Linked DNA regions of Homo sapiens. The protein of the gene in region 3 interacts with the protein of the main gene of each other region in a pairwise test. Each region holds a gene or a part of one and is shown on either strand. Other genes may lie near its edges. The genes, in order: RGS20, ALG13 and MAPKBP1.

What was found.
Region 1: the proteins of MAPKBP1 (region 3) and RGS20 interact in binary tests that used the Homo sapiens proteins (3 or more experiments, as listed by UniProt).
Region 2: the proteins of MAPKBP1 (region 3) and ALG13 interact in binary tests that used the Homo sapiens proteins (3 or more experiments, as listed by UniProt).

What each region holds. Positions count from the first base shown.
Region 1 is NC_000008.11:53,881,472-53,891,978, reverse strand, and holds part of RGS20 (regulator of G-protein signaling 20), read right to left. Parts: intron 1-10,507. UniProt on the Homo sapiens protein: Inhibits signal transduction by increasing the GTPase activity of G protein alpha subunits thereby driving them into their inactive GDP-bound form.
Region 2 is NC_000023.11:111,682,494-111,693,000, reverse strand, and holds part of ALG13 (UDP-N-acetylglucosamine transferase subunit ALG13), read right to left. Parts: intron 8,037-10,507; coding exon 7,898-8,036; intron 6,865-7,897; coding exon of another isoform or gene 6,846-6,864; exon of another isoform or gene 6,827-6,845; intron 5,115-6,826; coding exon of another isoform or gene 5,000-5,114; exon of another isoform or gene 2,829-4,999; intron 1-2,828. UniProt on the Homo sapiens protein: Catalytic subunit of the UDP-N-acetylglucosamine transferase complex that operates in the biosynthetic pathway of dolichol-linked oligosaccharides, the glycan precursors employed in protein asparagine (N)-glycosylation.
Region 3 is NC_000015.10:41,803,628-41,814,134, reverse strand, and holds part of MAPKBP1 (mitogen-activated protein kinase-binding protein 1), read right to left. Parts: intron 3,253-10,507; coding exon 3,190-3,252; intron 2,958-3,189; coding exon 2,900-2,957; intron 2,179-2,899; coding exon 2,008-2,178; intron 1,620-2,007; coding exon 1,482-1,619; intron 1,217-1,481; coding exon 1,034-1,216; intron 806-1,033; coding exon of another isoform or gene 788-805; intron 515-787; coding exon 354-514; intron 1-353. UniProt on the Homo sapiens protein: Negative regulator of NOD2 function. It down-regulates NOD2-induced processes such as activation of NF-kappa-B signaling, IL8 secretion and antibacterial response. Involved in JNK signaling pathway.

The DNA.
Region 1 (10,507 bases), on a different chromosome or scaffold from region 3:
CACCAGCATGGCACATGTATACATATGTAACTAACCTGCACATTGTGCACATGTACCCTAAAACTTAAAGTGTAATAATAATAATAATTTAAAAAAAAATCTGGGCCTAGGCTGCCTAGATGAAGGGACTGACCAAAAAAAAAAAGTTGCAAAAATTATAACATACTTCTTTTCTTTCCAGTGTTTTCAAACTGACAAAACATGTATTACATTTTACACTCACAAATGGCAAATTTTTAAATACACATTTTCTGAATTACATTGGAAACAAATGATATAAAAGAAAGATAACAATGTAATACACAGAAAATTAATTCAAGAAAAATGTCAATAGGTCAAGGCAGATCACTTTTTTTTTTAGACAGAATCCTGCTCTGTCACCCAGGCTAGAGTGCACTGGCATGATCTTGGCTCACTGCAATCTCTGCCTCCCGGGTTCAAGCGATTCTCCTGCCTCAGCCTCCTGAGTAGCTGGGACTACAGGCACACGCCACCACACCTGGCTAATTTTTTTGCATTTTTAGTAGAGATGAGGTTTTGCTATGTTGGCCAGGCTGGTCTCGAAATCCTGACCTCAAGTGATCCACCCACCTTGGCCTCCCAAAGTGCTGGGATTAAAGGCATGAGCCACTGCGCCTGGCCCAAATCACTATTCTTATGCAACAACTAAAAAACTCAGATAAATAAGTGAAATTACATTTCTAAAGTCATCAGAGAACTGTGAAAGCAAAAATATTATATAAACTAAAATTTCTGAGTAAGAGAGTTCTTCCAAGCTGAGCTGTCTGTCACTAGCTGTTTTTTTCCTGAGGGCTTTTGCTGACCGTTAGCACAAGCTGTGGACATAAAGGGACTCTTTTCTCATGTGGCAGAACAAGTCCCCTTCAGTAACAAGGACTTCCTCAAACACATGGCTGGGTCCTACAAGACATTTATCAAATGTGGCGGCCATATGGGGAAGGTGGAGGCAAAGAACAAACTTAAAACCTCTGAAGGCAAGACTGAGTCTTCCATTCTTTTGAGACCAAGGAGATAGAAGTCCATCAGGCTTTCATTCTGGAATCCAAGAGAAAATTCCCAAGGAACAAGAAAGAACTGGGCATTAGCTAAATCTTATTAAAACTGCAGCCACCAGTCTGGGTAACATAGCGAGACCCCATCTCTACAAAACATTTGTAAAAAATGGTCAGGTGAATTGGCAAGTGCCTGTAATCCCAGCTACTCAGGAGGTTGAAGTGGGAGGACTGCTTGAGCCCAGGAATTCTAGGTTATAATGGTGCCAATGTACTCCATTCTAGGGGTGACAGAGGGAGATTCCATGTCAAAACAAAAAAACCCCCAAAACTGTTACCAGATCTGACCCATTCTAATACCTGCTGGCCTGAAGTGATCAGCCCTTCAGTCCTTCATCCTTAGACAGGAAATCCCTCCAAGGGAGATTCAATCCTTGCTGGTGGAAGAAATTACCAGAACCTACACAGTTTCTTTATATACAATGTCTACATATAATAAAAATTACTAGATATGTGAAGAGAGATAAAAATGTGATGAATAAAAAAATGGATACAGGCACACAGATGATCTCATTGGATTTAGTAGATAAGAATTAGATGGACTAAACTGATGAAAAGATGGGAAATTTCATCAGATAATTTAAATGTATTAAAATGAATCAAATTGGCATACTACATTTAGAAGAAAACAAGTTCTGAAATTAATAACTCACTAGATGATTTGACAGAAGACTCAGGCACAGAGGAAGACAGCTTAATTAACTAAAACACAGGTCAACAGAAAATATTCAAATTGAAGCAGAAAGATATGCGAAATGAACAAAACAGATCAGACAATAAGAGACATGAAGGAAAAAGGCCAACATATCTGTGATTTGGGTCCCAGAAGCAGGAGAGAAAGAAAGAAAACCAGACAAAGCCATATTTGAAGAGATATTGAGTGAAAATTTTCCAAAGTTGATGAAAGACGTCAATCCACAGATAAAAGAAGCTCAGTTAACCCAAAGGAGAATAAATAAAATGAAAACCACATATAGGCACATTATATTCACTGTGGTAAGTCAAAAATGAGAGAAAAACTTTATGAGGATAACAACAGGCTACCTTCAAAGAAGCATAACTTTCCAACAGAAACTAGGAAAGTCAAAAGATAATGGAATGAGAGTGTAAAGGCAGGCCAGACTGGAAGAAGAGATTTGCAGCACGTGCACACACACACACACACACACACACACACACACAGAATTTTGACAGATGGCTTGTATCCAGAATATATAAAGAACTGTGACAGATCAATAATAACAATAATAAAAGATCAGCGGCACAATAGAAAAATGGGCCAAACAGAAGTTCAAGACCAGCCTGGGCAACATGGTGAAACCCCATCTCTACCCCTTCCCAATATCCAAAATAAAAAAATTAGTTGAGTGTGGTGGTGGACACCTATAGTCTCAGCTTCACGGCTAATTGTGCCACTGCCTTCCAGCCTGGGCAACAGAGTGAGACCCTGTCTCAAAAAAAAAAAAAAAAAAAAAAAAAAAAAAAAAAAAAAAGAGAGAGAGAGAGAAAGAAAGAAAGAAAAAGAAAAATGGGCCAAAGGCTTGTAGAGGCATTTTAAATAGAAAATATACAAATGACTTGACCCAAAAACATATAAGAAGATGCTTAACATCATTAGTAGCCAGGGAAATACAAATTAAAACCATAATGAGATACCACTACACAGCCACCAGAATGACTAAAGTTAAATGGGCAAACAATACTAAGTACTGGTGAGGATGTGAAGCAATACACACTTTGCTGGTGGGGATGGATGTAAACTGATTTGGACTATGAAACAGTTTTGCAGTATCTACTAAAGCTAAACATACACTGGACTTATTACCCAACAATTTTTATCCTGGGCATATACCCAAAGGAAATAAGTTCATCAAAAGACATGAATGAGAATGTTCATATTAGCATTATTCATAATAGCTCCACACTGGAAACAACTAAAATTTCTTCAGTAGTGGAATGGAATACACTGTGGTGTATTCACACAAAGGAACGCTGCACAGCATTAAAAAATAACAACACGTACAACAACAAATGAATCTCAAAAACATAATGCTGAGCTAAAGAACCAGATGCAAATATTATACACTGTTTAATTACATATGAAGTTTAAAAGCAGGCACAATTGGTATATGGTGAAAAAAGTTATAAAAGTGGTTACCTGTGGGAGTGAGTCCTGAATGGAAGGAAGCGAGACGGAATCTTTGGGAGAGCACGGGGGGCTGAAAATATCCTATATCTTCATCTAGAGCCGTGGTGAGTGATTTTGGCCCCAGAGGACGCTTGGCAATGTCTAGAGACATTTTTGGTCATGGCATCCAGGGAGGGGCGCTACTGCATCATGCAGTGGGTGGAGATCAGGGATACTGCTAAACATCCTACAGGGCAATGGACAGCCCCCCTCAATAAGGAGTTGTTCAACCCCAAATTTCCACAGTGCTGAGGTGAGAAACCCTGATCTAAATGGTGGTTCTGTGGGGGTACACTTACATAAAGTTTACTAAGCTGTACTCTTAAGATGTGTAAACTTTACTGTAAGTTATAACTCAAGTAAATGAAGTTAAAAGCTGTCATAAACCTCACAAAAATACCAAATAGCTCCTCACTGAAACCTAACAAACACAGAAAAACTTTGTTTCAGTTTTAGAAATACTCTAATTCATTAAACAGTCCTAACAACTGAAATTTGCGGGGATTATAGTAGGTCAGGAAGAATTAAACTCTGTATGTAAAGTCCCCCTTAAATGCAAAGAAATATCTATACCTTTCTTTATGGCAGGAGATATATGAATTATATCTGGGTAGTCACTAGAAATAAGTATTTGTAAAAACACAATGAATGTATAATGGAAGACCCCATACATGTAAGATTCTTCTGGAGTCATCAAAAGATGAATAGAGAAAAATATACATATACCTTTTTTTTTTTTAAGTCAGGGTCTCACTCTGTTGCCCAGGCTGGAGGGCAGAGGCAAGATCATGGCCCACTGCAACCTCAGTGTCCCCAGGCTCAGGTGATTCTCCAGCCTCAGCCTCCCAAGTAGCTGGGACTACAGGTGTGCACCACCACACCCAGCTAATTTTTTGCATTTTTTAAAGAGACGGGGTTTCACTATGTTGCCCAGGCTGGTCTGGAACTCCTGGGCTCAAGTGATCCACCCGTCTTGGCCTCCTAAAGTGTGGGAATTACAGGCGTGAGCCACCACGCCTGGCCACATGTACTTTTTAACAGTAGTCTAATCTGAGTTCTCTGGATAATGACTTCCTGTCATTAATTATCAACATGACTTTTATACAAATTAAGAAATCTATGGGCGTGTGCTCTTGGGCTGCTCTCTGGCCAGCACCCTCTCCTGTGTCACCTCTCTTGTGTCCACAGTCTAACCCATCTCTTCATTTCCCTCAACCTCAGGTGGAGCCTCCACCAAAATGCAGATTTTTCCAAAAATCCTTACAGGGACGATCATCACCCTAGAGGTTGAACCCTTGGATACAACAGAAAAATGTAAAGGCCAATATCCAGGATAAGGAACGAATTCCTCCTGATCAGCAAAGACAAGTGACTGGAAGCTGGCAAGTAACTGGAAGATGGACATAACTTTCTCTGACTACAACATTCAAAAGGAATTTACTCTTTTTATGTTGTGTTGAGACTTCATGGTAGTGCTAAAACTAGGAAGAAATCTTACACGACTCCCAAGAATAAGCATAAGAGAAAGAAGGTGAAGTGGGTGTCCTGAAATACTATAAGGTGGATGAAAATGGCAGAATTAGTGGCCTTCGCTGGGAGTGCCCTTCAGATGAATGCGGTGCTGGAGTTTTTATGGCCAGCCACTCTGACAGGCATTATTGTGGCTAATGTTGTCTGATTTATTGCTTCAACAAACCAGAAGACAAGTAATTGTGTATTAGTTAATAAAAGACATGAAAAGAAAGAAAGAAAGAAATCTACGAGTCCCTTAAATCACATTATCACCCCACCCTGAGACATAAAAGTCCATTATAAGGGTGAGGTAAGGAGTAGGTTACATAATTCTTTCCAATGTTGCAAAAATTCAACAGCTGTATAAGTGTTGATTCTAGCCATTCAGCCCTAAAAGGGTTAAAGTCCCCAGTGTCCTTAGTCTAAGAGCAGCAGTACAAACTTGTGCTCCAGCCTTGAACAACCACAATTCAGTCAGCTTCAGAGGGGCACAAATGTAGACAAACCAGATAGCAGGGCGTTCTCCACTCCTTCACTGTTGGACGGAGGTGCACATCGTACAACCCAGCACCTCAGGAAGCCAAGCTATCAGATAACTTTGCATGAGATGCCTTTGCCTAAAACCCAAATGCTCACATGAAAAGGATTTTACACTTTAGAATAAAATAAATGCGTAACTAGAAATTGAGCTTTCAAAATCAAAAAGGTCAACTGGCTTTAATAACTATTGAAATAACTCATGTAAAATATCACTGCTGGGCAACAGAGCATATTACTCATATTTCACAAGTGATTCCCTATGCAAATAGCTAGACTCTAATCAGCTGGATTAGAATCAAGGTAATCTACTCCATGAATTTATAATCATGTAATATTACTCTGAGCACTCAGCCACATCAAACTTGATTGTGAATGGCCTCTCCAAGAGCCCATTCAATTGTACTATGAACTGACTCACTCCAAGCAGCGTCGCCTTAACTCTTGAGCTAGCTGCGCAAAGTAACATTCAGGGACCATCTCAGATGGTGCCGTGTAGTCAGTGACTCCCACTTATTGTACTAAATGCTAAGCTCTGACTCAGAGTGAGCCCTATTAGTTGCTGACTGACACTGTACTTGTTTGAATAGAAGCTCACATTGTGAGTCACCTGGTGGTGCACTGAAAACCAATCTGAAATATTCCCAATTGGACAGTGATTCACATTATAATCATATTGGGACCTAACTTGACACATGTGATTTCAAAACTAAGTTCTGCCAAACTGGCTTGGGAGCATGCTAGAAAGTCACTCCCTTCTTAATGCCCTGTCCTTCTGTCTAAGAACATGTAGTAAGTATCCCAAGATGCAAAGTATTCAAGAGTAGGGTATTCATGCAAGAGGTTTCTTGGAGTCAAAAAAAAAAAAAAAAAAAAAAGAGTAAGATACTCAGTATCCAGTTCACACACTGGAAAAAACCACGGTTTCCTTTTTCAAGGATGCAGGCATAATTCCTAGAAGTACCTCCCCTGGAAGACACACCATCCCTATAAATAACTTTGTAAGACCAGATGTTCACTAGAAAGTCTCTGCCGTATAATTCATTTTTTTTTTTGAGACGGAGTCTCCCTCTGTCGCCCAGACTGGAGTGCAGTGGCGCAATCTCGGGTCACTGCAAGCCCCGCCTCCCAGGTTCATGCCATTCTCCTGCTTCAGCCTCCCGAGTAGCTGGTACTACAGACGCCCGCTAATACGCCCAGCTAATTTTTTGTATTTTTTAGTAGAGACGGGGTTTCACCGCATTAGCCAGGATGGTCTCGATGTCCTGACCTCGTGATCCACCCGCCTCGGCCTCCCAAAGTGCTGGGATTACAGGCGTGAGCCACCGCGCCCGGCCTCTGCTGTATAATTCTTAAACTGTGGATGTGAGGGCTGGACCTTTAAGCCACTATCTGCATCTGTCCATGGAAGGTGAATGTGGTTAGATGCCCACATGCGGAAATAAAAGAACAGCAGGATTTCAGGAATTAATACTTAATGCCTGGAATGAAACCAGTTACAGGCTACTGCATTAAAATAAGAAAGCTTTTCTCTTTTACTCTCGCTAGTCCATAAAATCTAGAATAATAAAATCTCCTTCTGTGTAATTTTGAAGGCGTTTTCTAAAAGGCTTTCTTATAGGAAAGACCTTCAAAGCCAGCTGGAAGGATATTTTAAGAATTCAAGAAAAGCTCAAAAATGATTTCTAAAACTGCTACAGGAGATTAATAGAATATGCAATCAAATGTATACCCAAGTGGGGCCTAAAATGCTAATGCTGGCTCTGACAATAGCTTGATCTGTGACCTTACCTTACCTGAGGCGAGTCATGTGGTCATGTCTTATAATGTGAGGGACCAAGATAAAGCTGTGGGACAACAGTAGCCACGACATGACTGCCTGGTCCTTCTTGGTGCTAGAGATAGCACATGCTCGTACACTTTTTCCTTATTTATACTTTCTATCTGTTAACAGTTCATTAATCCGTAGTAAACAGGAAATCAGCAGTGTGGTGTGTAAGAGCCCTGGGGAATGAGTCAGAAGTCTTCATTCTATTTTGGCCCCTAATTAGCTGGAGATCTCTGGCCCAGACCCTTAACCTCTCTGAATGTTTCCTCATCTGTAAAACGAAGGAGGTAGAATAAGTAACCTGATTTTCATCATTCTGTATTTTTGATATAAGGGGTGTTTCAGCTAAAACGTTTACAGTGATCTCAGACAAGTTAGCACTTCAAGCTCCTAAGGTACATTTTCAGATTCTCTTAAACTGGCTGTTCATCAGCCCTGGCAACACAGCGAGATCCTGTCTCTATAAAAAATTAAAAAATTAGCCAGGTGCGGTGGCAGGCACCTTAAGTCTCAGCTACTCCTGAGGCTGAGGTGGGAGGATCCTTTGAATCTGGGAGTTCAAGGGTGCAGTGGGCCTCAGTCGTGCCACTGCACTCCAGCCTGGGTGAGAGAGTGAGACCCAGCATCAAAAAAAAAAAAAAAAAAAAAAGACTGTTTTTCTAATTTGGATGATGGACATGTGTTTCATTATGCATACTCTTTATAGTATACAAAAATATGCATTCTGTTACTGATCTTATTTATAGTTTGAAGTCTAGCCAATTTAGCATCAATATAATAATAGTAATAACAGCTTTTGCTTGGTATGTGCCATCCCGTTATAAGAGCTCTATGTTATTAATTTACTGAATGCTGTCAGCTAGCACATTAGGTAGATACTCTTTTTTTTTTTTTGAGACGGAGTTTTGCTCTTGTTGCCCAGGCTGGAGTGCAGTGGCTCCATCTCGGCTCACTGCAACCTCTGCCTCCTGAGTTCAAGCAATTCTCCTGCCTCAGCCCCCAGAGTAACTGGGATTACAGGCGCCAGCAACCACACCCGGCTAATTTTTTGTATTTTTAGTAGAGATGGGGTTTCACCATGTTGGCCAGGCTGGCCTAGAACTCCTGACCTCACGTGATCCACCTGCCTCGGCCTCCCAAAGTGCTGAGATTACAGGAGTGAGCCACCGTGCTCTGCTGAGCTGCCGAGGTAGGTGCTCTTATTACCCCCATTTCACAGATGATGAAACTAACGCCCAGAGAGGATAAGTAACTAGTCCAAGTTTATGCAGTTAGGTTGGGATCTGAACCCAGTTACAGAGCTCAAGACTCCCACTGGTTTGGCAACACTGCCTCTCATATGCGTTACTAATACGTGATAAGAAAGATGTCACTTATGGCCAGGCGCAGTGGCTCACTCCTGTAATCCCAGAACTTTGGGAGGCGGAGGCAGGCGGATCACCTGAGGCCGGGAGTTCAAGACCAGCCTGACCAACATGGAGAAACCCCGTCTCCACTAAAAATACAAAAAATTAGCCGGGAGTGGTGGCGCATGCCTGTAATCCCAGCCCCAGCTACTTGGGAGGCTGAGGCAGGAAAATCTCTTGAACCCAGGAGGCGGAGGTTGCAGTGAGCCGAGATCGCGCCATTGCACTCCAGCCTGGGCCACAAGAGCGAAACTCAGTCTCAAAGAAAAAAAAAAAAGAAAGAAAGATGTCACTTAACGAACAGAAGATAAACAGGATGAGACCCCCAAAAAAATTAGGTTTGGAGAAAAAATATTTTAACAAAAATAGTAAATTGCAAACTATGGTTGTGCCAAAAAACTTACAGATAGAGTAATTTCACTAGAAATGTCCTTGTCAAGTTTGGGGCGGAAGTCAGACCGTTTTGCGAATTTGAACATTTGTTTAGTCAATTCCACGGTTTGGAGCCACTAGGGATGAAATGAAGCCAAGCCACGCCAGGGCCCTGCCACTTGTGTCCCAAGGAGGGTGGCTGGAGACTGATGCAGAAGCCCCTTCCTCCCCACACTCCGGGGCAATGAGGAGCCCGCGTGCAGGTGCCTAATTCCGCTAGCCAGTGGGCGAGGGTCCTGCTGGCACCGAGGGCACCAAGGCTGGGGTTTTGACACCAACGAACCCCAGCCAGGTGACTGGGGAACGTGGGGAGTTCGACAAAGAGCGATAGGCTTTTGCCATTTTTTTTTTTTTTTTTTGAGACGGAGTCTTGCTCTGTCGCCCAGGCCGGAGGGCAGTGGCGCGAGCTTTTGCCAAGTTACGAGACGGACAGGAATCGAGGAGATTCCCCTGTAGCGCTCTCCACCTTCCGGACAGAAATCCTGTAGACCACGTTCACTTCTCCACTCCGTGCATCGCCCGTGGCCCGTGGGCAGCAGCTGCTCCCCTGGGATCCCCCTCGCCTGTCCGCGAGCTCTCGCACGGCCGCGTCCCTGCTGCTGGGGTCGCTCGCTGGCCCTGGCTGCTCGCCAGGATTTTCCTTTGATGCTGTCAAGTCCGGGAAGCTCACGATGCACCTCAGTGCCCGCGCGCCGCCTCTCCCAAAGCCCCTTCCCCACTCACTCCCCCACAAGCGTGGAGGGAGATGGGGTAGGTCGCGGCGCCTATAGACCCCCTCCCGGCGCCCACTCTCTCTCTTCCACTTCTCTAGCAGCGGTAGGGCCGCAGCGCACGCAAACCTTTCCCCAAAACGCCCACCCCACTCTCAGCTAGCCGCTTCTCTCAGGGCTCCTCCGCCCGAGCTGGGTGTGGGGATCGCCGCGCACACAGAGACGGGAAAGCCACCCCGGTCCCGGAGCGCCGCTTCCCTAGAGGCCCCTGGCCCGTCCGCTCCCCCAGCGCTGGAGGACAGCCGCGCACACAGACCCTCCCCTCCAACGCCCACCGCGGTCCCCAGCTGCAGCCTGCACCTCCACTTCCCGCCCCCAGTCTCCCGCCCTCCGCCCCCTGCTTTCCAGTCTCCGCAGTCCGGGCGCCCAGACTTGTTTCGACTTCCCAGGGCAGCTCCGAGGGTGCGGAAGATCAAGTGCCCGGGTTTGTTCCAGGAAAATCCCGGCGGCGCCTGCACGTTAACTGCCCTGGCGCAGGCGAAGGGTGGAGGGCACTTCTCTGTTCATTCGGTTTTCAAGAGCGTGAACAGAGGCTCCGAGTGAACGCCCATACCTAGTCGGTCTTCTAGGGTCCACGCGTGGGGCGTCCACTTCCTCACCCTGCCCCTCGGTGCCCCTGCCCTGGTTGCACTTCTCCTAAAAGGAGGCGCTACGATTCCAGGAGGCTCTGTCTCCTTACCCTTCCCAGCGGCGCTCAAACCACCAGCCCCGGGCGCCCAACCCCTTCCTTGTCCTCTCCCTATCCCGTGAGAAAGCCGACG
Region 2 (10,507 bases), on a different chromosome or scaffold from region 3:
AAGACCAGCCTGCGCAACATGGCAAAACCCCGTCTCTACAAAAAATTAGCCAGGTGTAGTGGCCCATGCCTGTGGTTCCAGCTACTCCAGAGGCTGAGGTGGGAGGGTCACTTGACCAGGGGAGGCAGAGGAGCCAATATCTTGCCACTGCACTCCAGCCTCGGTGACAGAGAGACCCTGTCTCAAAGGAAAAAAAAAATTGTTTGGTAATATCCTAAACCTTTCTCTATGTAAGCTTTTACTAGAAAACACTATAGTGCTTTTCATATACCTGATTTTTAACATCATGTTTTGCCACAAATCCCTGACAGGTACCATTATTTGACAGACCCTTAAATACCATTAAGATACTGCATAGAATCAGCACTGTTATATTTGGGATGCTATTCTTATATGTGCTTGATCCTACAAACTTACCATACAATATGATGGTCACATCTTCTGAACAAGAGACTTACTAGATACTTCGCTGTCAAATCAAAGTCAGTATGAAATAAATGTGTACAAGATGACAGTGTTTCCTAGAACAATACCTAATCCTAATCAAGACAATCAAAAAAGAGTACTAGGTTACAGAAGTGCATTCATCATTTATGGAAAGCCTACTGTGTTTCAGGCAAAGGACTCAAAAATGAGTAAGACATAGGTCCTTCAGAGCAGGAATCATGTCTTGGATCCTGCTGATACAAAAGGTAGATTCTCATTATGCATTTATATTAAAAGCCTGAATGATGAATACATAAGCTTGAGGTACTTAGGAAATAAAGCTGTGAGTGCTTGGAAACCAATTAGATATAAGGGGTTGGAGACAGAGTTAAAGGCTAGAAGAATGACTAAATGATGATACCATTAATAAAGATAAGCACCTCAGAAGAATGAAAAGAAATATGATTTCAGTTTGGGGCACACCTTGAGTTTGAGGTGCTTACAGAATTAACAGACAGACAGGGCCAAAGGCAATTGGAAATATCATTTAGGAGCCCAAATCAGAGTTGGGAGATACAGATAAAGGAGTCAACAGTAGAAGCTGTGGGAATGCTGAAAATTCCAAGAAAAGAAATAAAGCAAGGACCAAAATGAAACTTTAAAATACAACTAAGAAAAAAGAAAAAGATTTGTAAATAACTTGCAATCAGGTAAACCAATTGAAAGAGTTTCTCCACATGGATTCTACACATGGATTCTATGAGTAGCCATCACTGTGGTTTTTTAAGTAGCAATGTAAAAATTCAAAAAGGTTATACACCTATGGCTAGCATACCGTTACGCCTGTGGCTAACATACAATCTAAATTTCTTAGGAAAATCCTCTGATTTCAAATATTCTCTCCTACTGTCCCCATAAAGGATGGAAGTATACTGGAATTCAGTGTTCAAATTACAATTTCCACAACATCTCTTGGACCCTAAAATGAAATACAACTTTTTTCACATTATGTTATTTGTAGAATGGACAATACCAATTATTGCACAGGAATATTTAAAGATTAAATGAGTATATATGTGTAAAGTGCTCTGAATAGTACCTGATACATACTAAGCACTAGTGTTAACCAAAATTATTTTTCACTCCCCACTCCCCAATAAAAATATCGTATTACGGCCGGGTGTGGTGGCTCACGCCTGTAATCCCAGCACTTTTGGAGGCCAAGGTGGGAGGATCACCTGAGGTCAGGAGTTTGAGACTAGCCTGGCCAACATGGTGAAACCCAGTCTCTACTAAAAATACAAAAATTAGCCCCACGGGGTGACACATGCCTGTAATCCCAACTACTCGGGAGGCAGAGACAGGAGAATCACTTGAAACTGGGAGGTGGAGGTTGCACTGAGCCGAGATCACGCCATTGCACTCCAGTCTGGGTGACAGAGCGAGACTTGGTCTCAAAATAAATAAATAAATAAATAAATAAATGGTATTACATGTACAGCAGAAAATTGATCACCACATGGCTATCATGATGACCCTTTCCAAATGTTTCCCCAAAATTAATTTCAAATGATCTGTCCATGTGTCATTTCTCAGACTATATGAAGTGTTTTGGTCATCTCCACAAATTTTACATTTATGAACAAATCAGAGGAATTACGTGCTTATACCACAATAAAGGGCCAGGAAGAATATTTATATTACTGCTAGTCATTACTTAGTCTTGAAAAACTTCCTCAAACTAAATATTAAAGTGGCAAACAACCTTTTTGTACTCTTTTGTGCCTATATATGACTTGCCTTTAAAAGAATACAAAGTAGAGCCGGGTGCAGTGGCTCACGCCTGTAAAACCAGCACTTTGGGAGGCCGAGGCGGGCGGATTGCCTGAGCTCAGGAGTTCACGACCAGCCTGGGCAACACGGTGAAACCCCGTCCCTACTAAAATACAAAAAAAAAAAAATTAAAATTAAAAAGTAGAGGTCTAAGGTGTCCAAAATCAGATACTTGATGGTACTTGCAGATAATGACTACTTTTAAATGTTCCAGAACCCTATGTCAAATTCATTGGTTATACTATCTTACCAACAAATCCTTTGAGCTTTCTTTCCTCCCAAATTATAAGTATCTAAAATCCTTAATTCCCAAGGTCATCCCAAAACATCACATCTCTTTTCATCTACTCCAACCCGTAAATGTTCTATTAACTGTCTACCTCTTAATCTATCCATGGTGCAAATTTCCCAATGCTAAACTCTCTTTCATTTCCTTATCCCTGAAAATTTCAGTACCTCTAATAGAACACTGCTAAATAAACTGCATTCCACTTACTCATTAATATCAAGAACCTGCAGCTCTGTCATGTAATGAAACCAAACAAATAGAGCAAACATTTCAAACAGACTTTTGGTTACCATTCTTTAATAAGGACTAATAAGATGTAAATGTGGTGATTAATTTAGCATGTTTCCTCATCTGTAAAACTGGTGGTTTAAAATATTCTTTAAATTATCTCCCAACTCCAAAAGTCTACAATTCTGTCTTAAAGTCTTAATTTATTCAATCTACTATCAATCCTACCCAGAGCATTTTCCTAAATTCCAAAAACTCAGAAATCACAGATTTCTAAGTCCTAGGTAAGGTTGTCATACGCCAAAGGAAAACCCAGTTAAGTGTGAAATTCCTACTAAATAACTTCCATAAATAAACAAACAAAACCTACCTTGCAAGGAATTCGAGTAACTAAAATGAACACTAGGCAAACAACTATAAAGAAACAAAAAGCTTACAACATATATTATGCAGGGTAGAAAGAGCAGGGGACTGGGAATCAAGGAGCTGCTCCTAGGGGCAGTTCTGCCAAAAGCTATACTTTAAGCAAATGGTAAAATCTGAATATGATGGAATTGGACTAGATAATCTCAAGAATCCGTGCCAAATCAAAATGATTTTAAAGTCTCCTTTGACTTAAAAATCCAAAATCGATACAAAATTCCACAAAAGGGAAGTCAGAGGCGTTACTGCACACAATTGACAACAACGGCTTAAACCTCTGCTAAATGAAATAATGGAATTTAGGTTATGCATTATTCTGGGGAAGTAGATAGCAAAGGATTTAGGGGCTGTATAGCCTTTTAGTTGTCTGATATTTGAGTAGACCTTGCCTTTCATTTGTTTCTCTTTAATTCTTCATCATAAACTATAAAAACTAAGTGACCAACATAAAGTCACAATTTTCTCAAATGAGAAAAACGTATTTATGAGGGCCCAGAAAACACTAAAGATTCTCTCCCTGGATTTGAATAGGACCTTTCCTAAAACATAACATTGATATACAATTATGATTATGGTGCTGTGAATTCTCAACCAGATTACTCACTTTTTAGATTATTCTCAGCAAAATTTTAATCCAAGTTGGCTTCCTCCTGCTACCCAGAGTATTTCTTTGTCACCACCTTCTACCACTAGTAAGCATTTTTTTAATATTAGCCTAAATAAAACACAATCAGAAAAATAAACCTATAAAAACATGATAAAATGCATTCCAAATAAAATGTTTGGAACATTTAGCATGTTGGGATAATATGATTGGAATGGAAGAGAGGTCTTTATAGTGAATGTTCTATTTTGATAGATAAACTATATCTAAACATTGTACCAGAGAGCTATGGACACTTAAGGATAATCTACTGTAAAGGTCTTGAGACCACACACTCTAATCAGAAAGAACTTCATAATGTATCTTGCTCAAGTTAAGTCAATTTTAAAACCATATATTTAAGCCATTATATGCATCAGTTTATTGTTCATTCATAAAACTAATTTTATAAGCACATAAATTGTAAATTTCTGTTACAGTTAATGTTTCATTACCACTGTGAGAGGAGATCCTTAAAAAACAATAGTAAGTCCTATTGGTATAAGTCCTTTTTGATTATTCTTCTCAAACCAGTAAAGTTTTGACATTAGGCACGATTATTTTATCACTTTGTATGTTTTAGAAAAAAAAAGTGAATATATCCACTCCACTCTGTTCTTTAGGAAAAAAGTAGCTTTTCCAAGTACAAGAGATCAACTAACTTGATCATCTTTTTTAGGCAATGATTGAACTTTTCATTTCACAGAGCATAATCCATCATTTTTTAAATTTGGTTCCTTAGATTATAAAGCTAAAGATGCTAACTCTTATGTAAAATTTTTTTACATAAAAGTTGTTACTGTTTCATTTTTTTATTCTAAGGAGTATCAAACTAACTACATTTATAATCTTTGTGAAAGTTTTCAAATCTCATTCATTTTTATGATTCCAATTCCACTTGAGATTCTAGGAGAAAACCTGTGAATGCTCACTACATACTGAAGATTAGAAAAAAATCTAGTAATTTCACTAAACTGCAATTAGGATTTGGACCCAATGCAAATGTGCACAACATAAAATTTCCTATACATTCTATAGATGTAGGAAGTTTATTAATTATATTATTTTGTAAATATATATTATGTATTTAATTTGATTTAATCACATTACATAGGTTGAATTTGGGGGTTGCTTTTAAAGTGTTGAGAGTTTAGTGTTTATTTTTGTAATCCAACAACTTTATCCAAAAATGCAGAAAATTTTTCTGGCTGGCCAGGAGGATAACATTTCAGTGTTGATAAGTCCATTGACTGTAACAGCCCAGGAAGCGTGCTAAAACAAAAGAAGAAAAATATTAGGTAACATGGGAGAAAATTCCATACTTCATCTGCTGCCCACTGATGACTGAATCTAACTTCCAAGAATATAGTGGTACTTCTAAAAACTGCACATGTGAATTTTTATATATTTTAATAAGTATACATACTAGGATTATTAAAGCAATACAAAGAGTACTATAAAATGTCAATATAAATTCAGCAGATACCTTATCTCCTATGTCAACTGATATATTTCAGAAATGATATTTCATGAAAAATGTCTTCACATGGCTTTGTAATACTTCTCAGGACTGGGCATATTTAAACTGAAGCACAATTCATTCATGAAAACAGAATTTAAAAATTGAAACCAAAAGTAATAGCTGCCAGACAAGATAATAAGCTGGGGAAACTACTAGACCATGCATGAAGACTGTGAAATAATCTTTGCCAGTAATTTACTATCATAACTTCATATACAATTAAACAATATACCACACCACCATGTATGCTGGAAATAAGGTTTTAAACATAGAACCATTACATCGGAAATTTATTTAAACCAATCGCTTAAATTAGAACAAACATACTACCCCCCAGCCTAGGTCTGGGGAAAATAAATGATTTACCTAAAATGAAAATATAACCAATTATTGGCTGGGTGTGGTGGCTCATGCCTGTAATCCCAGCACTTTGGGAGGCCAAGGCAGGCGGATCACCTAAGGTCAGGAGTTTGAGATCAGCCTGACCAACATGGAGAAACCCCGTCTCTACTAAATATACAAAATTAGGCCAGGCATGGTGGTGCATGCCTGTAATCCCAGCTATTCGGGAGAATTGCTTGAACCTGGGAGGTGGAGGTTGAGGTGAGCCGAGATCGCACCATTGCACTCCAGCCTGGGCAACAAGAGCGAAACTCCGTCTCAAAAAAAGAAAAGAAAATATAACCAATCAATTACTGATTCTTTCTCACTGCTTACTGCTTTTATGTGACTTTCTTGAAATTAATATAGAAAAAAAGACATTTAAAACTGTAAAAAAATAAAAATAAAATAAATTGGAGACTTGTACAGTTTCCTTCCTTTTCAGCATGAGTAAAAAGTCAGGATATGTTTATGAAATCAGTGTTTTCCTTTTAATGTACTAACACAAAATCAAAGCTGATTTAACATTTAGAATGAAAATACTAATTAAAAGTATCTGGAAAAAATTGACTTGCATAAAGCAGTTAGGAAGATAAGTTTATTCCTCTTTAATCTAGCTTCTCTCCTGACTCACTAAATAGTTCAAGACTGGCTTCTATGTTACACAGCCACCCTGACATTCCCTCTTCTCCAACATTATAGTGATAAGGACACCAACAATTTCACTCCTGAAATAATCAATGAATCTGCCTCCTCTCAGTTAAGAACAGGAGTCTTTGTTTTGTTCACTGATGTATACCAAGTGCCTAGAACAATGCCTGGCACATAGAAGGTACTCAATAAATATTTAATGAATGAATAAGTATTTACTGAGTGCCTAAGAGACAGAAGCAGTAAAACTAAAAGAAAAATTATGCTCCAGCCAGTTTCTTCTCAGGTTTTTTATTTTAAAATTAATTTCATTTTACTATAATGTAAATAAATATATATATACACATATATAGTAATTCTATGAGGCATTTACTTCTTGCAACATCAAACTAGGATAGGTTTTAAAGTCAAACAAGTGGGAATTACTGACCTGGCCCTTTGGCAAGCTTCTAGTGTCTCAAGGAAGAACTAATAGAAAACAAACAAGTAATTTTCTTCATCCTTCTATTACGATGATCAGTTCCTGTTGAATTCTAATATACTTGTAGAAAATAATACTCCTTACCATAATTTCTCTGCTTAAAATACTTCAATGGCTTCTCAATAAACATGAATAAAATCAGAACTCTTACATAAGCTACCCCCACCCAACTTCATCTTCTATTATATTCCCTTGCTCACTATGCTCCTGCAACACTAATCTTCCCTCTGTTCCTCAAACACACCAAGCTCCAAGTTCATTCCTTACTTAGGCTTTTGCACTTGCTGTTCCTTCTGCCTCCAAATCTTCACATGACTGGCTCTTCCTTGTATTTCGGGTCTCAGATCAAAATGTTAGGTACTCTGCCAAGCCTTCTCTGACAATTCTAATCAGTCTTCACCCCAGCTACCACATCACCCTGTCTTACTTTCTTCATAGTACATTTCACCACATGAAATACCTTGATCATTTATTTGTGAACTTATTATCAATTTTCCACCACTAGAATGTAAGCACCATAAGAACAGGGACTTTATCTCATGTTTACTACTGTATCCACAGCACCTAAAACAGTGCCTTTTATATATTGGGTGTAACTGAATAAATGAAAGAGTAAATATAATTTAGGGATTTTAGTGGATTTACTATAGGCAAAACTTTTAACTAAAATGAGCAAATTGTCTTCCTTGAATAATGAAAATCTAAATAATGAACTCAAAATTTAGAACTCCAAAATTAGTGTCTTGGAGACATGCACGCCTAAATAAACACACATACACACACTCTCTCAGATATTCACATATGCAAAGAAACAGCCACAGATACACATAGAAATACAACACAGAGATTGCAAAATGGGAGACAAACAAATGGGAGGATTTTACAGCTGAGAAAATCAAAAGGTTTGGTAACTGGGAGAAGGTAAGAGGCAGAAGAGACAGATGGGTTAGGTAGGTGGATAAGAGGAAGTGCAAGGGACGAATTAAGGCAAGAGATAATAATAATCAGTCTCTAGCATACCTGCAGGTACAATAGAAGAGATGACCCTCTTTGTGTAGCTGCTTTGCCAGTTCCAGCTGATGATTGTTCATCAACTTTTCGTTTATAACCACTACGAGTGGCTTTCCTTTTTCCAGAGTCTCCAAACAGCTTCCTGCACCTACAAATATAAATCAAATTTGTTCAACACAATTTGAAATAAGTTAAGGTCCCCACGAAGCTTTATAGCTAGAAATCAAAAGTTAAAAAACTTAAGTTGACAGAACTACAAACTAGGTCTTTCAATTATACATTCAAAATGACAAGAGTATAGTTATCAGTTGCTCTCTAATAAAAAGTGCTAGAAACTTTATTTGAAAAATACATTACTTTATCACTGATGATGACATTATGGCCTATGATTCAGTGCTATGCTACTTGCTCTCTAGTACCAATGACCCTCAACTTACGATGGGGTATAGCCTTGTGACGGGGTATAACCCCATCATAAGTTGAAAACAGGCTAGGTGCAGTGGCTTATGCCTACAATCCCAACGCTTTGGGAGGCTGAGGTGGGAGGATCGCTTGAGCCCAGGAGTTCAAGACCACTCTCTGCAACATAGAGAGACCTTGTCTCTACTAAAAAATCAAAATAAAAACAAAAACAATAAGGCATGGTGGTTGTGGTCCCAGCTACTGGGGAGCCTGAGGCGGAAGGACTGCTTGAGCCCAAGAGTTGGAGCTTGAAGTGAGCTATGATTGCACCACTGCACCCTGTCTTGGGTGACAGAGTGAGAACTCACCTCAAAAAAAAAGGAAAAAAAAAAGCAGTTGAAAATATTCTAAATAGAAAATGCATTTAATACACCTAACCCACCACACATCACAGCTTAGCCTAGCCTACCTTAAACATGCTCAGAACACACTTACATTAGCCTGTGGTTGGGCAAAATCATCTAACACAAAACCTATTTTATGATAAAGTGTTGACTATCTCATGCCATTTATTAAATACTCCAAGTGTAAAACAGAATGGTTATATGGGTACTCGAAGAGCGGTTTCTACTGAATGTGTATGCGTATTGCTTTCACACCACCATAAAGTTGAAAAACTCTAAGTGAAACCATTGTACGATGGGCCATCTGGAGTATGCTTTGGGCATGGCCTTGAATCCAAATAAGATCCAGGTTTGACATACTGTATGTGAAACTATACTTCATTTCTATTCAACCCCAAGTAGAAAAGCAAGCCTACAATAGAGACAGACAGGCATCAATAATGAAAAACCCTGACCACTTCTTATGGGTTTACATGTGAGGTGCTATCCCAGAAATAGTCAAGGATAGATCTCCATGAATATGCAAATATAGAATATTAGGATCAATTCAATTTTGAAATGTAAAATCATCTAACTATTTTAAATGAGAGCAAGGAGATTGATAAGTGAGTAGATAAGTCCTTTTTGGGTATCTTATGCTAGGGTGGTTAGTTAACAACATTAACTCCGGAGGGGTGCAGTGGATCATGCCTGTAATCCTAGCACTTTGAGAGGCCGAGGCAGGTGGATTGCCTGAGCTCAGGAGTTTGAGACCAGCCTGGGCAACACGGTGAAACCCCGTCTCTACTAAAATACAAAGAAAAAAAAAATTAGCCGGGGCGTGGTAGTGTGCACCTGTAATCTCAGCTACTGGGGAGGCTGAGACAGGAGAATCGCTTGAACCCGGGAGGTGGAGGTTGCAGTGAGCCGAGATAGCATCACTGCATTCCAGCCTGGGTGACAGAGTGAAACTCCGTCCCAGAAAAAAAAAAAAAAAAAAATAGAAAGAAAGGAAAGGAAAAGAAAAGAAAAAAAGAACATAAACTCCAGCACCAGATTGTTATCTGTCCACCACTTCCCGGCTGGACAAATTACTTAACCACTCTTGTGTCTCAGTTTCCTCATGTGTAAAATGGAGATACTAACAGTACTTAGTTCACAGGATTGTTTAAAAAAGTAAAGTTAATATACACAAAGCATTCAGAGCAGTGCCAAAGGCTCTGTTACCTCCTAGGAGATACATTTTTAATCACGAATCTGTTGGTAATGTCTATTTCTAAAGACTTTTCTCTCCTCAAACTAGACTTTAAAAAAAAAAAAGAAAGGAAAAAACGAAACACCTTTCTTCACAACAGTCAAAACTGCATTGCTCCCCAAAAGCAGTTCTTCTGAATGCACTAGAAGTCTAATTAACTAGACCATCAGGGCGGTCCTCTGAAGAGGAAACAATTTACACAGTATGTAGCTGTTATTATTTTTGACTGGATTCATTTCACTCACATTCAACAGAAATGTAAACAATCTTACAATTCCAATTTCTCCATGACCAATCCAACCAATCAGCAGGCAGAACACTCCTTTAGATCTAAGCCCAAGTACTAATGTCAAGTTGACAATTTATTACACTTCCCCGGGTAAATTATTTTGCTCCTCTGTGTTTAGGGTTTTTTATTGTAAAGGTGGACTACAGTGGTTAATTTCCCATTCTTCTCTCACCCCAAAATACTAAGTTCTCTCCAGTAAAGTTCTCAATTGTCATATTCAAATAAGTTGTGTATTCAAAAAGGGCTACAGTGAGTTCAGCTAGCGATTTTATTTTACCTCGAAAAGGTTC
Region 3 (10,507 bases):
ACCTCTTAGATAAATTAACAAGATGTTCCACTGTAGAATTGCCCCTAGTTCCGGACAGCATCCAACCAGAATACTTCAATCCCTTGAACGATTCCTAAAATCACCCAACGCAAACCCAAATCCCATATGTCCCTCCTAACACCCACTTACTGAGACTCTCCACAGTTCTCCATGGGGTGGGGTCTCCTTGGTTGCAACAAGTACCAATAAACCCAAATTCTTCTGTCTAAAGAGGTGTTCCCAATAATCTTTGGGGCATCAATACACTCTTCACCTGCTCCCTGAGGCACTGACAAGAAAGACTGGGCAGGGGTAAGGCTACAAATGGAGGAAGGGGGGCCCACATAGCTCACCTGGCCTCGGTGACGCTAGCAATGTCTGTCCCCAGAGCATGGGGTCGGGGCAAGGTGCTAAGGAAGTGCAGGTTAGAGGGGTTGAAAAGGCGCACGGTGCCATCAGCACAGCCACAGAAGATGTAGTCTTGGCTCACAGAGATGCAGTGGGCCACTGTGGTCTGTGGGCAGAGTGGCTCAGCTCAGCAAGGCCACCTGCCCACTCAGTCTTCTCTCCTCCCCACCCATCAACAGCCACCTGCCAAGAGGAGGGACCGGCCAAGGCAGGGGCAAGGGAAAAGCCGCCCAGCTGCCCTGTTCTGAGCCCCTCAGCCCTGTCCAGCCAGGGATTAGGAACCGAGGATTCTTCTAGGCACCAGAGGATCCAGTAGGAAAAGCCCAGTGAAGAGAAAGAAATAGCATGAGAAAGAGAGGAAGGTGCAGGCACCACTTACTGTGAAGCTGTCTATGTTCTGAGCGGAAGAGGAAAGCAGGGGAAAGAGACAGAAAGAGCAGAGAGGAGGCAGTTATACAGATCACCAAGGGCTGGAAATGGGCCAAGCTCTAGCTCCCCCAAGCTTCGTTCTCCTGGGATCTCCCGTATGCACAAGGGACCAGCCCCTAGTCTGAAGCCCTGGGCACTAGTTCTCCCCTGAGCTGAGACATGAGCAGACCCTACCCCTGGGGACGGAGGTACTTACCCTCAGCTCCACCCACTTGTCCAAAAGCCTTCGATCACTGAACTCGCACAGCAGCCCTGAGGACGTGATGCAGAAGGTACTGTCCGCCTTTTTTCCTCTGCCACAGGCCACATCAGTGAATAGGTTGTTCCGTAGCTCTCCCAGCAGCCCTGAGCGGCCCAGCAAGGGCACAGTGGCATTCACCTGTGGAGGCACACCACTGTTACACCCCCATCCACCCCAGAGCCTGCCCCTGGAAACTGGGCCCTAGGAGAGTACAGGGGACGCCTCCAGCACCTCCTTGCTCTTTGGGCCTACTCCTCAGCCCAGACAGCATCTGGCTCATCCAAAACTTCTGCATGACTGCTGGGAATGCAGAGAGAGGCCCAAGTGGGGCAGAGTCTCCTGGGTTGGGCTGGGCAGGCCCTGCCAGGGGCCTTGGTGGCTACTCCCAGCTTCAGCACCTCACCTTTGAGGTCTTGCTGTCATCGAGATACCAGAATTTGATGTGTCGGTTGCCTGCAGTGACAAAGTAGCTGCAATCCTCAGAGAAGGACACTGCTGTCACCCGACTGGACACCTTGTTGGAGGCCACCACAATGTTTTTCTGGAGGGGATGCCAAAGGAAGAATCAAGGCTCTGTCTCTTGGAGCTAAGAAGACAGTGACTCAGAGAATGGAGGAGAATTAGAATTTGTACTTGACAAAGTGTTTCTTTCCAGAATTTACTGGCCAGAAAAAGAGGGGTAGGGAAATAATCCCTTTCTAGAGGAGCTGAAAAGATTCGTTTCCTGCAGAAGTCTTTGAAGGCATAAAGCTAGCCCCTTCAACCAACATGCTTGGCCACACAGTTGCTCTTTTCTGCTTCAAATAACTTTCTAGAATGAGAATGGTTCAGTGGGGTGGAATGGAGCAGTGCAGGTCAGCAGTCTCTTGCCTCCCCAGCTGACACTTGACCCCTGTGAGGCTGCCAGGCCACCCCACCCAGCCACTCACCTTCCAGGCCCACACGTTGACGATCATGTCATGCTGGTAGCCCACAGAGACAATGTACTTGGCGCTAGGAGAGAAGGCCACACAAGCCACACCATACTTGTGCTCCTGCAGCTCGGCCACCTGGCTGTGCTCTGCCACGTCCCAAACCCGCACGGCAGGCATGTGCCCACTCTGCAGGGAGGCAAGAACTGGAAGTGAGTTCTTGACTTCTCCACAGGCATACAGCCCCACTTCGTCTTCCAGAGCGGGGCCCTCGCCTCCTCAGCTACTAGATACCATCACTTCCCCAGCCAAAAGTCAGGGCAGGGTATAGAGGAAATATGATAAAGATCTGAGGGCAACAGTGATTACCAGGAAGAAAGTGGCCCCGGATTTTAGTCAGCATCTCTGGGTGGCCGTCTGTACTTCAGGTTGTTCAAAGCTCCCTGAATGGTTCTGATGGGCAGCCGGCATTGAGAGCCACTACCACTCAGGTCTATTTCTGCCCCTAGTAAGACTACGCCGCCAGGACAGAAGCGTTCCTCCTGAGCCCAGCAGGGGGCCCCCGGGGGTAAGGAATAGTTAAGGCAGTGGTTTCCAAAGCACGCTTCCTTCACCAGCAGGATCAGCACTCTCTGGGAACTTGTTACAAATGCACATTTCAGACTCCCATCCCAGACCTACAGAATCAGAAACTCTGAGGACCAGGCTAGTGATGTGTGCTTTCACAAGCCCTCCAAGTGATTCTGATGTACACTAAAGCTTGAGAACCACTATTTTAAGGTATAGCGAAAACCAGGATTTGGTGTCTGTTTCAGAAGCCAAAGTGACAGCAGGCCTAGGACCGCAGCTCTCTGCGGAGGCCAGGACACCTGCCCTCTTTACAGTACTGCCAGCCCTCTTCCTCACTCACCTCTCCAGTGACCAAGTACTTGCCATCAGGGGAGAAGGCAAGGGCAGTGATGGTTTTCCTGCAAGAGATGGGGCAGGCTCAGAGGGGCACTGGCAGCCTGGCCTAAGCCTAGCCCCCTCCCAGCCTCTCAAAAGGTGAGACCAGCAGACACCAATGGCACATGTGGCACTTCCCCATCTGGCTTTAGGACCCAACCAGGTCCCAGCCCCCAGAGCCATAGAGACTCTAGACAGTGCCCTTCTCATAGCTCCCAGAAGGAAGAGGTATCCTGAGGACCCCAGCCCATTTACCTGGAACTGTTGAGGATGTGGTGCTGTTTGTGTTTCCGGGGATTGAACAACACAACCACACACCTGAGGAGATGAGCAGACAACAGGCTCAGCAGCAAACCACAGCTCCCCCAGGAGCCCTCCAGGCCACCCAGGACTTCCAGTCACCCGGCAGAGGGAGCTGGGTAGAAAGAGCTCAGAAGGGCTCCACTGTTTTTTTCCTTTTCTTTTTTTTTTTTTTTTTTTTTTGAGACAGGATCTTACTCTGTCATCCCAGCCAGAGTGCAGTGGTGCAAACATGGCTCAGTGCAGCCTCAACTTGCAGGTTCAAGCAATCCTCCCACCTTAGCCTCCCTAGTAGCTGGAACCACAGGCATGTGCCACCATGCAAGCTAATCTTTGTATTTTTTTTTTTTTTTTTTTGTAGACACGGGATCTTGCCACGTTGCCCAGGCTGGTCCCAAACTCTTGAACTCAAGTGATCTGCCTCCCAAAGTGCTGGGATTACAGGCATAAGCCACCGTGCCCAGCCTCCACTGCTTTCTCCTGGCAACCTGTTCTTGCTCCTTTTCCCCACCCAAGAGGAACTATCTCTGTAGCCCCATGAGGGTGAAAGGGTTCCCTGGAAGCCTGTCCCCCCAGCCAGGCCCCTAAATACCAGCTCTATCTCTGGCCATACCCACAAAGGGCAGCAGGGACACAGGCCATCCCGCAGCCCTTGTGCATACCCCAGGAAGGGGTGTAGGAGGGAAGAAGAAATGTGATTTGGGCAAAGCAGGCCTCGGGTGCACAGCCCGTTCACAGGCTTGGGGCCACACGTGTATCAAGCATGTGTGCCTTAAGATGTAAGGCCTCTCACGTGTGCACCCACGTGTGTACCTGGCAAGAGCTGGCCCCCCACACCATGTGTTGAATAAGGAAGGAAGTGGGAGGCGAGGCAGGGGCCACACAGCAGAGAGGCTCAGTAAGATGGGGTGGGGGATAGAGATAGCCTGAGAAGGCCTGGGAAAGCCTTACAGTGCCACAGAGGTCCCAAGCCCCACCCTGAGAATCTCTGGCCCCAAGAAACCTGAGAAGAACCCCCCGACTGCCAGAAGCAGAATCAGGGACTCTGCCTGCCTCACAGAGAAGGTGGGGGCAACCTCTCCCGTCAGGCAGCAAGGCTGCTGGATGGAATCAGGTCCTGCCTTTCCAGAGGCAGCTCCGGAGATGGAAGCTGGGTAGTAGGAATCGGGGGCAAGAAGCCAAAGGCCAATAGCCAGGCAGCTTCTCTTTAGGCTTCCTGGCTGTCAGCAGGCCCTGGCCCGTTGCCCCTTCTGCCTCAACTCTTCATTAGCACTGGAAATAGCAGACAAGAGCAAGCCTGGAGACTGCGAATAGGAAAGGCAGGGAGGAGAGAAAGAGGAGACAGCTACTTCCCCCAGACCTAATTTTCCCTAGTGGGACCCCACTGCAGCCCCCATATCTGAACGCCACTACTGGCTGGAAACTTGAAGGGAGGTAGGTGCAAGTTGCTAGTGAGGGCTAAGCATCTTGGGCTCAATAAACCACTTTGATATGCAAATTTGGGGACACTGGGACCTCCGATGTGACTAGATATGCCCAGAACTGCCAGGCTGACCAACAGCTGTGGAATTCCTGAGTCACATCATTTTCTCCTCTAACCCCTCAACTCTTCCTGTTTTTTTTTCCTCCTTCTTTCTCCATTTCCTACTCTTTCCTTGTTCCTGTTTCCTTTCTCTGTTTTTTTGAGACAAGGTCTCACTATGTTGCCCAAGCTGGTCTTGAACTCCTGGGCTCAAGTAATCCTCCTGCCTCATCCTCCCAAGTAGCTGGGATTACAGGCTCATGCCACCCTGGCTCAGCCCTTCCTTCATTTTTTTTTTTTTTTTTGAGGCAGGGTCTCGCTCTGTCACCCAGGCTGGACTGCAGTGGCACCATGGCACCATCACAGCTCCCTGCAGCCTCGACCTCCTGGGCTCAAGCAATCCTCCCACCTCAGCCTCCCAAGTAGCTGGGATTACAGGCACATGCCACCATACCCAGTTAATTTTTGTATTTTTTGTAGAGATGGGGTTTTGCCATGTTGCCCAGGCTGGTCTTGAACTCCTTTCTCTTTTTATACCACTTTCTAGTCTCCTGCTTCCCCTTCTAGAATGTCACAGTCAGGAGGGTTTTAAAAAGTATGACAGGCCGGGCACAGTGGCTTATGCCTATAATCCCAGCACTTCGGGAGGCTGAGACAGGCAGATCACCTGAGGTCAGGAGTTCGAGATCAGGCTGGCCAACATGGTAAAACCCCATCTCTACTAAAAATACAAAAATAAGCCAGGTGTGGTGGTGGGTACCTGTAATCCCAGCTACTTGGGAGGCTGAGGCAGGAGAATTGCTTGAACCCAGGAGGTGAAGGTTGCAATGAGTTGAGATCATGCCATTGCAGTCCAGCCTGGGCGACAAGAACTAGACTCTGTCTCAAAAAAAAAAAAAGTACGACAAAAGCAAGATGGCTCTGGAAACTCTGCACCCCATCGCTCTTGAGCAGGCAAACGAAAATTATAACAGAGCCGGGAGTGGTGGCTCACGCCTGTAATCCCAGCACTTTGGGAGGCTGAGGCTGGCAGATCACGAGGTCAGGAGATCGAGACCATCCTGGCCAACATGGTGAAACCCCATCTCTACTAAAAATACAAAAATTAGCCAGGCGTGGTGGCGGGCACCTGTAGTCCCAGCTACTGGGGAGGCTGAGGCAGGAGAATGGCGTGAACCCAGGAGGCGGAGCTTGCAGCAAGCCAAAATCACGCCATGGCACTCCAGCCTGGGTGACAGAGCGAGACTAGGTCTACAAAAAAAAAAAAAAAAAAGAAAGAAAGAAAGAAAATTATAAGAGTTCAAAGTGCACAGATTTAGATTTTTTTTTCTTTTTTTTTTGAGATGGAGTCTCACTCTATCACCCAGGCTGGAGTGCAGTGGCGTGATCTCGGCTCACTGCAACCTCCACCTCCCGCGTTCAAGCAATTCTTCTGTCTCAGCCTCCCCAGTAGCTGGGATTACAGGCACCCATCACCAAGCCTGGCTAATTTTTTTATATTTTTAGTAGAGATGTGATTTCACTATATTGGTCGGCTGGTCTCAAACTCCTGACCTCAGGTGATCCACCCACCTTGGCCTCCCAAAGTGTTGGGATTACAGGCGTGAGCCACTGTGCCCAGCCAAATTTAGATATTTAGGTTTTAATACTTTATGCAGTATATGAAAAGTAATAGCCCCAGGCCTGCCACTATCATGAATTCAGAGCCCAGAAAGTTCTCAGTGGTTAAACAACGTTTTCTGAACCTTCCTGCAATCTGTGCTGACCTGAGGCCCTCTACAGACTCCTCTCTCCAGCAAAGGCTCTAGTCTGAATGGGGACAGGTTCCCTAGCCTTCTGATTAGTTACACAGGAACCACAGTAAAGGGCTTCAGCTGAGAGTTGATCTAATTGAATTGACTCGATGCATAATCCAGCCAACCATATTCCAAATCCAGAAAAACTGGGATCTATTTGCAAGTTTATGAGTTTTCCCTTAATTCTCATCCCAAAGCAGCATTTCAGCCTTTAAAGGGTAGTGCATCAGACTGCTTAAAACACTTTCCAAGTCACTGCATACAAACTCAGTCTTCCTGGGACACAATATCCTCTGTTTCCTCCTTCTCCTATGTTCAGCTCCATGGTGGAAGAAGGGTGAATGATGCATGTGTGTGTGTGTAGGAACACTACGTAGATAGAAGGATGACTGGCTAGAGGCAATGAGGCAATTTCTCCCTCCTCTAACATCCCCTTGCCCCCAGTATAGCCTAAGAAATTCTCAGGTGTGCCATGGAAGAGCTAAGCAAGAAAAGGAAACACACAGAGGTCATCCCTTAAGCAACTATTTTTATTTCTAATTATTGATATTTGGAAGCCATCCAACAAGAGAAAGACAGCATGCAACCACGGTCGCAGCTACACATGCAGGGACGATAACGCAGATGCTGAAGTGAGAGCAGCATAGCCAGGGCTCCTTGTGTGCTTGACTTGAGGCCCTCCTGACCTGTTCTCAAAAGCACCAAGGAGCCCTCTCAGCCTTCTTGGTGAACTCTGAGCAAGCTCCTAGGTCAGCTGGGGAGAGGAGTGCGGGGCACAGTTTGTATCAATCTTTCTCTCCACATCCCCTGACCCTGCCCAGCAGGGTGAGCCCTTGCTCAGTGCTGGCTGGGATCCACCACATGCCAAGGGCTGGGTTGGACCAATCAGCTGAGTCCTGCAACTCAGCACCTGAGGGTGCAGGGCGGCTGCTCACTCTCACAGAAGGACGTAAGGCCTCAGCCTGGGGGAGTCACGCTGTGGAGTACCAGTGCCAGGTGCTGGGCCCACTGCCCAGGAAGGGCCAAGCCTTCAACATCCCCCTTCCCTACACAGGTCCAGGCCTGCTGCTACCACAAAGAGCCCAGGATTCCCATAGGATCCACCTCCTACCACTCTCCATCCCCCAGATGGGATGAGCTATGCATGGGGCAGCACAGACACAGGGAGCAGGACACACAAGGTCAACCAGGGACCCTGGGCCTTTGAATTGTTTTCTTTCAGACCAGGTAAAATCTGAGAATGACTCACAGAAGCATGCCAAAGGGGCTTCTGGCCTCGCTCAAATGTCGCCCTCCAGCCCTATTTATCATTACAACCCTACCTCCGTCACTGCTACCGCTTCTACTGTTTCCAAAGCACACATCAATTTGTAATCACGCTTATAACTTACACTGGGGGTGGGGATCCATCTTCACACACCAGACTGCCAGTTCTGTGAGGATGGTATTTTTGGTCTGTTTTACTTACTGTTAATTTCCCAGGGCCTAGACGATAGGCCCTCAGTAATTATTTGTAAACAAGTGAATATGTCTTCAAGTCACTAGGGGCAAGATCTCAAAGCCCTGGCTGCCAAGGAACCTCCTGGGTAGCAGAGTGTGAATGAGGGCCCTGGGGAGAGGTCCATGGTTCTCCTGTACCTCAGGCATTTAGGACTCCTTGATGCTCAAGGGCAGTGTAGAGGTGGAAAGAGCAGAACACTGAGGTCACAGGCCTGTCTGCTAACACACTGCATGATCCTGGGCACCAAGTCCCAACCTTTTCTTCTCTCAGGCCCACCTGGTCTCTCTACTGTCCCTGGCGAATACCCTACAGCAAGTAAGAAGGTAGCTCTGTGTTCCTTCAGCTCAGGTGTCACGAGAACACAGTTCAGGAGGAGAATTCTGTCACACCCAGTGCAATGCTTCAAAGCTGAGGATCTCAGAATCAATTTTAACATGGGCTGAGGAAATGGAGGGCCTCCTCAGGAGAGCAGGGGTTCCCTCTTCTCCTCCCCACTTAAATCAACCAAGAGGTCTCTTCTTAGCTGCCAGATACACCCCGTCACCTTGCTGGGACACTTCCCATCCCAGCGGGAGAGGAGCAGCTGTGCGCAGGGCACTCACCCAGGCCATTCTGGCATAGGAGCCAGGAGAAACCCATTCTCAGGACTGGGCACAGGGGCACAGGGGCACAGGGGCTGTGCTGGGCTTGAAGGCCCATCAACCTTCCACCAGCTGGCTGAGGAAAAGGCCCAACTCAATTAAGGGTGTTCAACTCAATTAAGTCTCTCAAAGGGGCTGTCTGGCATCCTCTAGTAGGGGGGCTTCCCGTGGGGAAACAACGGCCAAGGGATGTAGGAGCCACTAGGACAGGCTCCATGCTCAGCCTGGAGCTCCTACCCACCTCTGCCTGACACACTGCCCACCCTCCTTTCCTGTGCTGTTCCATTTCCTTTCAGAAAACTTTGTTTTGGTTTGATATTCGCCTCCGGGCCTCAGAGAATTTTCTGAGTTTTGTTTCTCTCCTTGTTTCTAGGATACCTGAGCTGGCTCCCAAAGCAACAGGCACAGGAGGAACAAGAGCGTGGGGGCTGGGGGCAGTGTAAGGATGATCAGATAAGAAAAGCAGGGAGACAAGGAGGGAGGTGAAGAACCTGCTTGTGCTCACACAGAATCTGGTGGCCCCCAACATCACAGCAGCACATCAGGGAGTTCTAGAACACAGCAAAACTCAAACACCCAGAAAAGAAGCCATTTGCACAGACAACTTCAAGTTCTAAGAAATCAAAAGGTCAGGGAACAGATTAGGGGCACTGCCCAGGGATGGCCTAAGCCAAGCATACACGCTTAGGAAACCTACTAGAGGTTCCATCAGGAAAGCCTGTACACCATCTGGAAGGATCATGACTCCCAGGCACATGCACTGGGCTGAGACCTGCTCATAAACATGCATAAGCACATGCCCTTAAAGGCCAGGCCTGGAGTCCAGGGGTGTGTGAGGAAGAAAGCGGGCAGGACTCCACACTCTCCAGGGCAGGGACACAGGTCTCAGCATGCACCAAGCAGCACCCCAAGGCCTTTTTTGCCTGTGCTACATCCAGCCCCAGCCCCACCTCCAACAAGAGGGAACCTGGCTTTCCCAGGCAGAGGCAAGAACAAGTGGAATTCCCCTGAGGCAGGCTGCACAAACTTATCCAGTAGAGAGGTCTTTCCATCAGCTTGCTTCTCTAGGGGAAAATGGAGCCTAGCCCAGCCTTTGCCAGGCAGAGCCCGTGTGGCTCCCACAGCACCCTTACTGCAGCCATTAAACACCAGAGGACCACTTGGGAGAGACACTGACCCCAAACCCAGGGGCAGAAGTCTCCCTTGCACAGACTGAGCTGCCCATAAATGGGGCTCTTCTCATTCAAAGGGCAGGTAGGCAGCTTAGAGGAAAAGCAATTTGTTAAAAATAAGCAGAAAGTGGCCGGGCACAGTGGCTCACACCTGTAATCCCAGCACTTTGGGAGGCCAATGTGGGCAGATCACCTAAGGTCGGGAGTTTGAGACCAGCCTGACCAACATGGAGAAACCCCATCTCTACTAAAAATACAAAATTAGCTGGGCATGATGGCGCATGCCTGTAATCCCAGCTACTCTGGAGGCTGAGGCAGGAGAATTGCTTGAACCCAGGAGGCGGAGGTTGCGGTGAGCTGAGATCGTGCCATTGCACTCCAGCCTGGGCAAGAAGAATGAAACTCTGTCTCAAAAAAAAACAGTGTGGTCTCCCCCTACTCTGTGCCATTTTAACAATCAGAGCTCTACAGTCATACTACTTGGGTTAGAACCCCATTACACACACTAGCTATGTTACCTCAAGCAAACTCCTTAACCCTTTTGGTTTTTTTAAGAGGCAGGGTTTCACTGTGTCACCCAAGCTGGAGTGCAATGGCACGATCATAGTTCACTGCAGCCTTCACCTCCTGGGCTCAAGCAA